Homo sapiens: one gene and its partner. The protein of the gene in region 1 interacts with the protein of each later gene in a pairwise test. Each region holds a gene or a part of one and is shown on either strand. Other genes may lie near its edges.

What was found. The genes of interacting proteins can lie anywhere in the genome.
Region 2: the proteins of MSRB3 (region 1) and EEF1AKMT3 interact in binary tests that used the Homo sapiens proteins (3 or more experiments, as listed by UniProt).

Annotation. Positions count from the first base shown.
Region 1 is NC_000012.12:65,276,520-65,280,266, reverse strand, and holds the start of MSRB3 (methionine-R-sulfoxide reductase B3 isoform 2 precursor), read right to left. Parts: upstream 1,585-3,747; 5' UTR 1,499-1,584; coding exon of another isoform or gene 1,402-1,498; intron 1,311-1,401; exon of another isoform or gene 750-1,310; intron 1-749. UniProt on the Homo sapiens protein: Catalyzes the reduction of free and protein-bound methionine sulfoxide to methionine. Isoform 2 is essential for hearing.
Region 2 is NC_000012.12:57,770,741-57,774,487, forward strand, and holds the start of EEF1AKMT3 (EEF1A lysine methyltransferase 3), read left to right. Parts: upstream 1-1,873; 5' UTR 1,874-1,984; coding exon 1,985-2,161; intron 2,162-2,276; coding exon 2,277-2,388; intron 2,389-3,747. Other genes in the region: METTL1 (tRNA (guanine-N(7)-)-methyltransferase), read right to left, coding at 354-517, 1,234-1,343. UniProt on the Homo sapiens protein: Protein-lysine methyltransferase that selectively mono-, di- and trimethylates 'Lys-165' of the translation elongation factors EEF1A1 and EEF1A2 in an aminoacyl-tRNA and GTP-dependent manner.

The DNA.
Region 1 (3,747 bases):
CAATACTATGCAGAAAGAAACATGAAACTGATATCACTGCTCAAGTTACTATTTACAAATTGCAAATTGAATAAAGTTAAATATTGTAAATATCTGCCATTAATCTGAACTGACAATTTTATAAGTTATATGAACCCTGAAGTTTTTTTATAGACAAAATTGTTTTTGAAAATCGATCTTGCCACCAGCGCTGCAAATGAAAATATGAAGAGATAAACCAGAGAGTACTGAATATAATCTATGCTTCATAGAGTCATGTTTCAACTAATTTATGAGTCCTAGTTTGCCATATCTTATTTGACAATTTAGTCTATTGGTAGAAAAAACAAAAGCAAACTAAAATCTCCTAAGAAATCTCAGCTCTAAGGAATTATAATTTATATTCTTCCATTCCCGATAAAATTAAGAAGCAAGAAGCTTTGACGACTACTCATCACAAACGTAAAAGTCCATGCAATTTCACATTTACCTTTATCCCTACCTTTGTACTTTAAAATAACTGCTTTTTAAAATAATAATCTGATATTAAATTCCCCCCAACAGTTCCCACATGATTCAAGAAGATTATCTTATAAAGTCTTACTGTAACGACTTCATAACTGCCACTTCCGATAGCTATTAGCCCTAAACCAAATAAGGCAGGAACAGCACTTTTCATTCATATAGTTTGACTCGAAATAGCCCAGTGTAAAACTTCAAAAATAGACTTGGATGCCTTTTTCTGCTTAAAAACAAAGCAAAACTGATACCTGGCAAACTCGGGGTTCTGTTCGATTTTGGCCTGTGAAATGCCAGGCGGGCCCGCTGGAGTCTGGCCCAGCAGCGGGGCAGCAGCGCAGGGAGGGCGGGCGGCGGGTGCGCTCCCGGGTGCGCCCCTCCCTGCCGCCTGCCCGCCGCCCCGCACCCCCGTCCTCTCCGAGGCGCGCGGCGAAAAGCGCAGGCCTGGCGGGCCGGTTCCCACGCCTCGGGCCCGTTATCTGAGCGGCAACCCCGGCAGGGTCGACGCACAGAGCAGAGGGCTCCGGGATGGACCCCTCCCCTGCCTCCCGCGGGCTGCCCCGCCAGATCCCTCTCTCCTGGGCCCGCGCGGGGCGAGAGGCTCCCGCGGGTTCAGGTTCGCTCCCGGGACAGGATAAGGTGTCAGTGAGGCTGCCAGACGCCTCCCTTCGGCGGGTGGGGGGAAACCAGCCCTGACCTCCTTCCGTTCGGCCCCTCACCGCTGGCGCGGGGCGCAACCCTTCTGCTCCCCTTCTCGGCTGAGGCAGGGGCTGTCCCCGCAGGTGGCCGAGGGGGCGCAGCAGGCGCAGAATGGAATCCCGGCTCGGGGTCACACCCTAACGTGGCAGGGTCGGGGTGGGAGGGGTGAGGCGAGGAGGAGAGGGGAGGGGAGCCCGAACTTACCGGACTGCGCACTTCCCAGAGCCGCGGCCAGGCAGAGGCAGAGGCAGAGGGAGAGGCAGAGCGAGAGGGGGCGCGGGAGGGTCCGCCGCGGGCTCATGGAAAGGCCAGGCAGCCGCCGCCGGTGTCCGAACCTCGCTCCCTCCCTCCCCGGCTCCGGGCGACGGACGGGGCGGCGGGAGGCATGACGGGAAATTCCTGGGCACGGGCAGCCGAGTCCAAATATGAGCATAGGAGACGAGCGAGGGAGGACCACGGAGCGCGCCGGCCGCGGACGGGGCCCGCTGCCCGGGGCTCGGCGGCCGCCAACTCCCTCCTCCTCTGCCCTGTCCTCTTCCTCCTCCTCCTCCTCCTCTGCACCGTCCTCCTCCTCCTCCTTCTCTGCCCTGCCCTCCTGCTCCTCTCCTCCCCCTCGTCCTCCTCTGCCCCAGGGCTGCCGGCCGCCTTCTGCCTGGGGGCATCCCTTTCCAACTCGGGACCCCAGAACACAGCCAAGCGCCCACCTGGCGTGTTCCACCTGAGACCGCTGAAGGAGTGGGAAACGGACAAACCAACACGAAGAGACCGGACAGCGAGCCAGGGACCTGTGGGAAGACGTGTCAGGGGTTGTTGAGAGCGTTGGTGGTGAGGGGATAAAAAGTTGTGGGAGAGTGAGGCAGGAGCAGGGCTGCCAGTTAGTTACTTGGCCATCCTATACATACAGAACGAGCACTCACTGTAATACGGAGAACCAGCCGCCTGCGTTCCAGGTGAGCGGGCCCTCTCTAGCAGAGGAGGGTGAGTGTGTGTGTGTTCTTGGCCAAAATTGCAAAGGTGCTCGTCCCAAACTTATATTTGAACACCATATATGGAGCCCAGGCAGGCTGGCTGAACAGTAGTTTTTCACAACAAAATGCTTAAGTTTACACCGGTCTTTCTCTCCACCTCCAATCTCTATTCATGTCCACCCCCCAACCCCCTCCACACACTTGTTTTGTATGTACCGTAGCTTGTCTAAAATGAAATGGTGTAATTCATTCAGAAGGTGCCACCTCTGATGAACAAAATGTCAGTCCTAGATGTTTAATTACAGGCCCAAGCCTGTAGTTGCCTAATTTTCCTTGGCACTGATAACTCCTTGGGTAATCAAGTCCAAATGACCCTTAGCTTTTCAAGACAACATAATTATGTCTTAATTACTATAATATATTTTTTCCCTCAAACTAATGGGACAGGACCTGGATATGTAGGGTATTAAGTAGTTACTTACGAACATTTTAAGATGCTAGATGATACAGAAATGATTTATTGATCCAAAATACTTAAGGGGTAAATGTCAAACAGATTTAGAGTGTGGATTATTTCAACGTGAACTAAAGTGATGGTAATTTGTACATCACACTATTTGTTTGAAAATGCTGTATTTGAAAATCAAGAACGTTGTTTCAAATCAAACTCAGTTCTGGCAAACTATTAAAACACATACACCAAAAAACAGTCCATTGCAAGTGGCTCCCCTCAAAACATCTGGTACTGAAAAACACCACATCCTGTGAATTACATATAGCAAATGGGCAAATGTCACCCTTAATGCATTGGCAATTATAATGGGACTAAGGGTAGATGACCCAGATAAAGTAATGGTGAATAAATTGTAATGCAATGAATAAAGGATTTAAATGACACATAACATGACTATTTAATTAGGTACCTAGAACCTAGGTAGTTGGAAATACTGAAGAAGCTCTTCAGTATTCCCTCCGTTTCCTCTTTTTTTATAGCCTTGTGTTACATAAGTGTCTGTTTTTCTACTTCCCCCACAACACTTTGCAAAGTTCTTTGCCCATAGTCCAAATGTTTGTTTAAAAACAAAAATAAAATGGGCACAGCCATTTGTAGAAAGGAATTTAGAAGCTCCCTAAGTGTAAAGCATGTTTCAAAGGATTGCAATAATTATGCCTATATTTAAAATATTTTAGTGAAGAACCTTACATACAAAAATATAGAATTATAAAAAATGCAATATCATTACAACCCAATTCATGTTAGTAAAAATAGAGAGTTCATTGTATCAACATAGCTGACATCACTGTCAGCAATGCCAACCACTATTCTAAAGGCTTGAATAAATATGCTAAGAGTGGCAGAAAAGAACTAAAGTTACTAAGTGCATGATAAGTGCCAGACACTGTGCTAGATGTTTTTTATAACTGATATCTCATTTAATTCTTACAAATATCTCTGAGATTATTTTTATCCCTATTTTACAGCTAAGGAGACTGAGGCATAGGTAAGTAATATGCTACCAGGAAGAAGTGAAGTAGTATTAGAATTAAATCCTCATTCTAAAGTGCATATATACTTTTACCA
Region 2 (3,747 bases), 7.5 Mb from region 1:
GATGGTAGAATCTCTGAGAAAAGACAGTTCAGGATCACTGGCCACAACGGCTAATCTCTGATGCTTGTGCTGACCAGCTCACTGACCCGGAACCTGGCAGATGAAATGGCTCATGTAGGGATTGACGCCAGAAAGGACAACCCAGGTTTTAAGAAGCATTTGAGGCAGCCCCCTCCACTCTCCAGGGCAAAGGTCACAGACCCAGAGTAGAGGGTAGGTGGAGCCTCTCCATGCTGATGTCACCAGTGTCTGGACGAAAGGGGAAAGGCCAATTATGACCCCCCACAAAAGTTGCTGAGGCAGCAGAAGCTACTAGGCCTCTTCTCACCCCAAAAAGAGGGCCTGAGTGTTACCTAACAGGCCACCATAGCCACAGCCTATGTCTGCAAACTCCACTTGGGCCTGAGCTCTCTTTTCTTTCTTATCCTTTGGGTCATCGTGGCTCTGATTTTGAGTGAGTGGAGCGAAGAACTCTGGGTATAGCTCAGACCAGTCCATCTCCTCTGGCTTCACAGGGCTATTGGAAAGAAGACATAAGAAGCATGAGAAGGTTGGTCACACCATTGCAGAAGTGGTACTGTGAGAGTGTGTGGGTGGGTGAGGGTGGGAGGTAAAAGGGAGGAGGGTTTCTCAAAAATTCTGTAACACTGGGCCCTGTGGCCTCTAAGAGGGACAATGGAAACCACCCTTAACTCCCAGTGTGAATCATAGGACCATCATGAGGCCCATAAACGCTGACCTGCCCAACTCCACTTCTGGCGGTTGATGTGACCCTGGCCGGGTAACTGCCCTTTCTGGGGCACAAGTTCCCCTTCTCCCGAGACTGGCTGCCTAATGCACTGGGATCCTACTTTGTGTTTGTGCTCTGCGGGGAGGGAAGGTAAGGTAAGGTGCGGGCAGGATTGTGTATATGTTTGCCTTTTTATTAAATCCAACAAACAAAAGCAAAAGATGGAAACGACATTCTGCCTCTATCACTTCAGTCTCAGTAACAATTTATTTCTCTTCCCAAACTTAGCACCGCTACCCAGACTTAGGCCCGAACGCCACGCCCACTCTCAACCCGCCAACTCCTCTCTCGGTCGAATCTCCCGGTCCCACCCCCAAAAACTGACGTCACCCATCTGATCCTCCCGGGTCTACCCCAAATCCTCCCAGCAGTTGCAGCACAACTGCTCTCCCGGCTGCTTTGAGAATCCCGCCCTCCTCTCTCTCCCTCTGCCCACTCCTCACTAGCGCAGCGTGTGGTCCGCCATGGGGTTGGAGTGAGCACGTTGCCGGTAGTAGCGCTTCTGGGGCGGTGGGGCCTCTGCTCCGGCCACGTTCCGAGTCTCGGCTGCCATGATCCCAGTCCGGGGTTTCTCTACCAAATCCACGTGGAGGCGCAGGCCAGAGGCGCAAGTTAATGACGCAGCCATGCGCGTTGGTGGCAGTTCCCGCCCCTTAAAGACCCAAGAGCAAATTCAGCTGGGCTGGGCTGGGCTGGGCTGGGCTAGGTGGGGAGGGCTGTAAGGAGCGAGTGCTGGAGGGAACCTCCGCACCGTTAGCCTCCAACTGGGAGGGCGAGGCCAGGCCCAGGGACCCAACGTTTTCTCTTAGCTTGCTTCTGCCTGGTCTGGGTTACCATCCTGGTTGCAGGCACCTGTGCACCCCACAGGTGAGAGGGGTCTAGAGACCTCGCCTTCTACAGTGGCATCAGTCCTCGCTCCTGTCCCCTTACTCCTGGTCTCGGACCAGTCCGCCCGGTCTGACTCTTGTGGTCCCGTGTGGGTTTCGTCGAGTGTGCGCTCGGGGCCGGGGCGGGAGGGGCAGCTCCTCATTCCACCTCCAGGAAATCGAACTGGAGGAAGGAGGGCAAACTCAGGGAGGCGGGGCTCGTTCCACAGGGACACCACGACGGCTCGCGGCCCCCAGCCTCTACCCCGCTCCGGATCCGGGATCTGAGCGCCGGCCGCGGTGCCCAGGCACTCCCTTGGCGGGCCGGATGGCGGACCCCGGCCCAGATCCCGAATCTGAGTCGGAATCGGTGTTCCCGCGGGAGGTCGGGCTCTTTGCAGACTCTTACTCGGAGAAGAGCCAGTTCTGTTTCTGTGGGCATGTGCTGACCATCACGCAGAACTTTGGGTCCCGCCTCGGGGTGGCGGCGCGCGTGTGGGACGCGGTGAGGAATGGGCTGCGCCGGGTGAGGGTCCGTGGGAGGTCCAGATCCCGGACTCCGCCTCTCCCATATGGAGCCATCCTCACGACTGTCTTTTTCTCTGTCTTTTCTCCCGTAGGCCCTGAGCCTGTGCAATTATTTCGAGAGTCAAAATGTGGATTTCCGAGGCAAGAAGGTGATCGAACTGGGTGCGGGGACAGGCATCGTGGGGATCTTGGCAGCGCTGCAGGGTGCGTGAGCTGGCTTTTTACGGGAGAGAGTGGGGACCCAGGGGCGCGGAGAAATGGTCACTTCGTGGATCTTTGGGGGAGAGGGGAGAACTTTGGGCCCAGTCTAACCCCTTCTTTTTAACAAATTTTTTTTTAAAATTTGTTTTTGTTTTTATTTTGGCGTCTGCTTCTGCGTGCCAGACAGCGCGAATTGCCTGTCAAAGCACCTAGGGTGGGTGATTGGGGAGGGCAGGAAATAAAACTCAGGCAGGCCTATAAGAAGGAGTTGTTTCTATCGTGTTGCTTTTTTTTTGTTTTTAATTTTTTTTGTTTTTTTGAGACGGAGTCTCACTGTGTCGCCCAGGCTGGAGTGCAGTGGCTGCTATCCCCACTAACTGCAACCGCTGCCTCCCGGGTTCAAGCAATTCTCATGCCTCAGCCTCCGAAGTAGCTGGAATTACAGGCTTGCGCTACCATACCCGGCTACTTTTTGTATTTTTAGTAGAAGACGTTTCACCATGTTGGCCAGGCTGGTCTCGAACTCCTGACCTCAGGTGATCCATCTGCCTCGCGAGGCGCCTGGGATTACAGGCGTGAGCCACGACACCCAGCCTTGTGTTACTCTTTGTGATTTTATGGAGAATACTGTCACTTAAAAGCGCCTTGGCTTTGGACATGGTCTTCTGTCAAGATGCACATATGGGGGTACTCTGTAGGGAGACTTGCAGACATTAAACTTCGTGAGTGCTTTATAACTTTATTATGAATATATTTCAGATTCCTTAGGTTTTTATTGCTAAGAGAAACAAGCTTATGAGTTTCCAAGGGTTAGGATGTGTTTTGTAGGAAGCGGGGTAGGAATTAGACACTGCAGACTTGGAAAAGGAAAAGGTAAGGAAAAATTTGCTTCTCTTTTGTCAAGAAGCAAAAACTACAGAGGAAACAGTTTCACAAATTATAATCTAATGGGCAGAAAAAACCTCAAACTGAAAGCACTCGTTTAAAAATTCTTACAATGTCATCTCCCTAGGAATGTAAATTAACATGTCTTTGTTCATAGGGACAGAACTAGGTCATATTAAGGGAAGCCTAGCCGGGCGCAGTGGCTCACACCTGTAATCCCAGCCCTTTGGGAGGCCAAGGTGGGTGGATCACCTGAGGTCAGGAGTTTGAGACCAGCCTGACCAACATGGTGAAACCCCATCTCTACTAAAAATACAAAATTAGCCGAGCATGATGGCTTATGCCTGTAATCTCAGCTACTTGGGAGGCTGAGACAGGAGAATCGCTTGAACCCGGGAGGTGAAGGTTGCAGTGAACTGAGATCGCACCATTGCACTCCAGCCTGGGCAACAAGAGTGAAACTCTGTCTCAAAAATA